Linked DNA regions of Homo sapiens: region 1 is linked to region 2. Evidence: fine-mapped expression QTL. A gene starts in region 2. The other region holds a variant in brackets. All regions are shown on one strand. Distances are from middle to middle.

Region 1 (2,918 bases), 82 kb after region 2:
AGGCAGGAGAATTGCTTGAACCTGGGAGGTGGAGGTTGCAGTGAGCCAAGGTTGCACCACTGCACTCCAGCCTGGGCAACAGAGTGAGACTCCATCTCAAAATACACAAACAAACAAAATAAAAAAAAAAAGAAAAAGAAAACAAAAATTAAAGATAATAAGAATATATTGGCCAGGCACAGTGGCTCACACCTGTAATCCCAGCACTTTGGGAGGCCAAGGCGGGCGGATCACGAGGTTAAGAGATCGAGACCATTCTGGTCAACATGGTGAAACCCCATCTCTACTAAAAGTACAAAAATTAGCTGGGCATGGTGGCATGTGCCTGTAGTCCCAGCTACTTGGGAGGCTGAGGCAGGAAAATCACTTGAACCTGGGAGGTGGGGGATGCAGTGAGCCAAGATCGTGCCTCTGCACTCCAGCCTGGGGACAGACAGAGCGAGACTCCGTCTCAAAAAAAAAAAAAAAAAAAAAAGGAATATATTAAGCACATTAGTCTATGAAAAATGAATAAACAAGCCTTTCTAATTAAGGGGACTCCTTCCTTGTTCTTAAAAAAGATAGCCTCCCTTTGTCCAACTAGGAAAAAAATGTACCAAAATAACACGAAAGATAACATACCTAAAAAAATTTAAACAAGAAGCAAATTTTAAAAATAGCTATACACACTTGAAATACTGATAACAAATTATGGAAACATCACAAAATGCTTTTTTTCATAGCTTGCTAACAGCTCATCCACATTTTGATCACCCTACTTAGCTAGTGGTTGGGCTGCCTGACAACCTCAACTATCTAAAACATGGGTACAAACAAGTTACTACCTGCATTCCCCAAAAGACTGAGCACTGGAGGAGTCAAGGAAGCCTGGGTGCAAATACCAACACTGCAGCTTACTGTCAGAGTAGCAATCAAATTGCTTAACTTTTCTAAGCCCCGGTTTCCTCATCTGTATTATGAGGCTAATATCTCACTGATAAGGTGGTTGTAAGGATGAAAAATGATAATGTATTCAAAGTGGAATACATTAGGACTGTGCTTAACATAGTCCACTTTGAATACATTAAAGGACTGTGCCTAGATCCATCATAATATAAATACACGTGGGCTGTTTACTATTACAAAGCTCAAGTACTTTAAATGGTAGGAGTGATGGTCTACCAGACAGATTTGTATGTTAAACTGACAGATTATAAAAAGCACGCTGGCGCATTAGGAAAGCTAATGTAAAGTCATGAGCCCAAAAAGTTATTACAGCACTTCAGTAACCCTTGACAAAAACAGGTTATTACAATTCAATGAAGTTATGAATGTCATAATCAACTTGCATCATCTGAGGAAGTTCCAAATCGTTGTACTTGGATTATGAAGCCAGGAAATGTGTAAATTAATTTTTTAAAGATTTCTATCTGAAATCAGTAAACTAAAAAAAAAAAAAAAA[C/AC]CCTCTGATATTTTTTTATAGCAATACTCATGAACATGCTCTATATATTCAAAATGACTTTTTATTTTTGAGACAGAGTCTCACCCTGTATCCAGGCTGGAGGGTAGTGGTGCAGTCTCGGCTCACTGCAACCTCCACTTCCCGGGTTCAAGAGATTCTCCTGCCTCAGCCTCCCAAGTAGCTGGGATTACAGGTGCGTACCACCACGCACAGCTAATTTTTGTATTTTTAGTAGAGACAGGGTTTCACCATGTTGGTCAGGATGGTCTCAATCTCTTGACCTCGTGATCCACCCGCCTTGGCCTCCCAAAGTACTGGGATTACAGGTGTGAGCCACCGCGCCCGGCTGTTTTTTTTTTTGTTTTTTTTTTTTGAGACAAGGTTTCACTCCCGTCGCCCAGGCTGGAGTGTGGTGGCACGATATCGGGTCACTACAACCTCTGCCTCCTGGGCTCAAGTGATTCTCCTGCCTTAGCCTCCCGAGTAGCTGGGACTACAAACATATGCCACCATGCACAACTAATTTTTGCATTTTTTGTAGAGACAAGGTTTTACCATGTTGCCCAGGCTGGTCTCAACTCCAGAGCTCAAGCGATCTGCCCACCCAGCCTCCCAAAATGCTGGGATTACAGGCATAAGCAACTGCTAAACATCAATATTTTATGTATAGATAGTAACAATTACACAGCTGTCAATAAATATATCAAGAAATATGTACTGTAAATGTTCTTAGGCTAGTTCAATCTACTTACATAATTTTTCTATTAAATAACTTTTTTATAAAAACCTTCATGAAAACATAGTATATTACTTTAAAACTCTATTCCTCTAGGATTTGGTAAACTGTACATTTATCATAATTACTCCTTTCAAGATGGTATAGATATTTACCATAGATAGTCCTTCCCTCCTTCCATTCCCCTTATCTACACCAATATAAGAAAACTGGCTATCTTCTGAGTTGTTTGGTCGGGCAGGGAGGTCTTTTCTAAAGTTTCAAACCTGGGAGAATTTGGGTAAAATCAGCTTAGATCTATTAAAGAATAGCCCTTCTAGGTACTTAGCCCAAATGAACAGAAACCTGTTTTTGGAAAGTACAGCTGCATAAATGAACCTCAAAGTAATTATGCCGAGTCATGCAGGTCACAGACATCATCTTTTCTAAACCTGTCGGTTTAAGAATCTCTTCCATTTTACTCAGAGTAGTTACAGAGCCTCTGCTTGAACATGCCCAGTGACAAGTCCAAATTCAAACACCTCCACGCCACCCCCCTCCCAAAAAAAGGTAAGGGAGAGTTAACAGTTGGAAAAGACAACCAGTAAAATACTGGTGAATACTGAACAATACTGGTGGGAGAATTAACCGTGCAAAGGGAAAAGGCCCACATTTTCCTCCAAAACTGAAGAAGAAGAGATTTTGGAGTCAGTGTTAAATAATTTAAAAGATTACTTACCACCAAGGTGGGTGCTGTCAATA
Region 2 (2,918 bases):
ATGCTTCACTTTTGGTAAATGCCAGTCAAAACAAAATAGGAAGTAGACTACAACTATGATGGAGAGTGGCAGATGAAGGGGGTCAGGGGACTGATCTGCACTGGATATTGTCTAGAAGAATAAATTCCTTAAGAAATAAAATAATGCAAATAATACTGAACATTCAGAAGCATGAAATCTGATGCTGATCGCTTTGGTTTATTCTTTATAGTTCTGTGGAACTATAAGGACATGCTCTCTTCCTATGAGCATTTTGCTCCTCTGGTTTTTATTTTCCCATCTCATATATATCCTAAAGTAATATACATATATACAAATATAAAGTGTTTGATAGTACATTTATATGCATAATTATCAAACAAAATTGTATGCTTTGTTCTCAATTGTAAAAGGTCAATTCGTATATATTTAAAAATCTTTCCTTCCCATTCCAGCAAAGTTGCATTCTTAAAAACTGTAAGTCGAAAAAAATTTTTTTTTCTTTTTTGAGATTCAGTCTGGCTGTCACCCAGGCTGGAATGCAGTGGTGTGATCTTGGATTATTGCCACCTCCACCTCCTGGGTTCAAGCGATTCTCCTGCCTCAGCCTCCCGAGTAGCTGGGGTTACAGGCTCGCACCACCACGATTTTCTTAATTTTAGTAGCTCGCGCCACGGCTGATTTTCTTATTTTTAGTAGAGAGAGGGTTTCATCATGTTGGCCAGGCTGGTCTCGAGCTCCTGACCTCAAGTGATCCGCCCGCCTCGGCCTCCCAAAGTGCTGGGATTACAGGCGTGAGCCACCGCGCCGGGCCTCAAGTCTAAATTTTTAAAAGAAAGTTTCTTCCAACCGCATTCACGAGAAGTGCTTCTCTTTCATGAAATAACAATTAGAACACAACTAGTGAAACCTTTGGGACTTCAATCACTACTTTTTCTAAACTACCACTTTCCAGCAGGAAGACGGAGCGGTAGCTTGGGGTAAAAATTAAAACCTAGCATTACCATGAGTTAAGATCGAGATAAATAGATCAAAATAAATGGGTCACTGCTGGCGCTTTACTTAGAAAAATAAAAAATTTCTCATCACTAGAACTCATAATCGCTCCGCAAGGAGGGCAAAACTGGGTTTATTAAAGTGAAAGCTGGAGAATCCAGGGGACACAAGCAGAAAGCTGTCAAAGAGGGGAGGGGCCGGGTTCCAGCACCGACAGGACCAGGATACTTATTTCCGACTCTTGAGAGAGTAGGGCGATACCACACCTCCGCGGCTCCAGCGTGTTCACCACAAAATCTTTTCCCTGCGGCCACCACCATCCTGCAGAACCGTTTCTTCTTTTCCACATAGTAACCGCATCTACCCTCAGCTGGAAAACCAGGCGCGTGCGGCGACGTCGCGGAGGTCGCCATAATTCTAGGGCTCGCTTCCGGTGTCCAGCATCCGGCAACCAGAAGAAAAGTTAGAAGCTTCCTTCGGGTCTCCTTCCCTTAACAAACATGGCTGCCTCAGCCCCCGCGCCACACAGGTTAATACCCGGAACTACCACAACCGTCTTCCCTTTATCCTCCGCAGAACCGGAAGAATCCGATGGTGGCTGGCGAGGGCCAAGTCTCTTACGCCTTCCCCTCGTTTCTCCCTCCCCGCCTCCTCCGCAGAAGCCGAGCGCCAAACTCAAACTTTATCAGGACCCGGACCTCTCAGGCTAATCCCGAGGGCCGGGCCTGTTGGGCTTTTCTGCACACCAGCCGAGGCAGCGAGCCAACATGAGCCAAGTGCTGTTCCACCAACTAGTCCCGTTGCAGGTGAAATGCAAAGACTGTGAGGAGAGGTAAGGTCCGCGTCATCCAGTGCCCGCGGGTGGCGGTTGGGGTCAGGCCAATGGGGAAAGATGGCGGTTCTGGCCCGTGGGATCCACCTTGCACCTAGGTGTCGAGTCGGCCCCCCTAGGAAGCGGATAGGGAACCCAGAGGGCCCGGTGGTTACCTCTCTCACCAAGTCGGCCGTTGCAGAGGGGACTGGAGGAAGGGTGTGAGGAGTTAGGAAGCCGGCTCACATCAAGTTAATGTCAAAAACCCTACCTGTGCACGGAATCGTGAAGATTATAGCCCTACTCTTCCCTTTTGACAGATAAGAACTCTGGCCCAGAGAAGTTAAAAAAATTTACGTGAGGGCTCACAGCCAGTTCATGGCAGGGTCAGGACTAGAACTCAGGCCTTGGCTCCGAGCCTTTCCCCCTCGTTCTCTTTTGAAGTATGTTGGCAGTAAAGTTCAACTTTTAAAAACCTACCAATTTGGTGGCGTACTTTGGCTCTTCACATCAGTTGCTTTAAAAAAGTAAATTACATTTAACCGACTAAAAATGAGAAAAGCAGAAACGTCATTAATTCATTCAATAAATATTGCCTCCTTGTAAAACACCTTACTGGGCACTGGGAATACAGTGGTCAGGAAAAACAGTCCTTTTCTTCATGGAGTTTACAATCACTGGAGGAAATAAAGACCAGTCGCACAGAGAAGTGCAACTTTGATTAAGGAGGTGGTATTATTGGGGCGTAAATAGATTTGACCAGAGGTCAGGAGACTTACTTTTTTTTTCTCAGTTCTAACACTCAATGGTTGTCTCTTTTTTTCTCTGAACGTTCTTTCCTCATTTGTAAAACTGATATAACATGCGTATTCACGTGTTTGTAATGAGGATCAGGTGTGAAATCTTTTGCGTATTCACGTGTTTGTAATGAGGATCAGGTGTGAAATCGTATGTGAAAACTAAGTGGTGTACAAATGTAACATAAAAAATGAAGACATTGCCTTATTGAGTTGCCAGTAATGTCAAACTGTAGTATATATAGTTCAGAATTCGGTCAAAAATCAATGGCAAGCCGGTCAAGGAGATGGTCCCAAAACCAGCAGCTGCATATGGAGATCTGTAGGTTTAGTTG

Which allele goes with the higher level. Positions count from the first base shown, and alleles are read on the strand shown. Sizes are in standard deviations (SD) of each study's normalised expression.
As copies of C replace AC in region 1, the expression in monocytes after LPS of the gene that starts at base 1,627 in region 2 goes down (large effect, 2.2 SD a copy in Quach 2016).

Evidence for each region. PIP is the estimated chance that this variant, and not a neighbour inherited with it, causes the effect.
Region 1: its variant is the best candidate, but not a certain one, in a credible set for the expression of SASS6 in monocytes after LPS (Quach 2016, PIP 0.65).

What each region holds. Positions count from the first base shown.
Region 1 is chr1:100,049,982-100,052,899 of GRCh38, reverse strand. SLC71A1 (solute carrier family 71 member 1) reads right to left here. Exons shown (of 12, transcript NM_033055.3): 2 at 2,896-2,918. Among named protein-coding and RNA genes, the nearest start is that of SLC71A1, 13 kb to the right of the region's middle. RefSeq lists enhancers at 2,444-2,533, 2,614-2,703. The variant C/AC (reference allele first, on the strand shown) is at 1,442.
Region 2 is chr1:100,131,639-100,134,556 of GRCh38, reverse strand. It overlaps SASS6 (SAS-6 centriolar assembly protein), which reads left to right and starts at 1,627. Exons shown (of 17, transcript NM_194292.3): 1 at 1,627-1,807. The coding sequence starts at 1,743. It overlaps TRMT13 (tRNA methyltransferase 13), which reads right to left and starts at 1,394. Exons shown (of 11, transcript NM_019083.3): 1 at 1,242-1,394. The coding sequence starts at 1,388. RefSeq lists enhancers at 1,180-1,709, 1,720-1,839, 1,244-1,846 and a silencer at 1,842-2,005.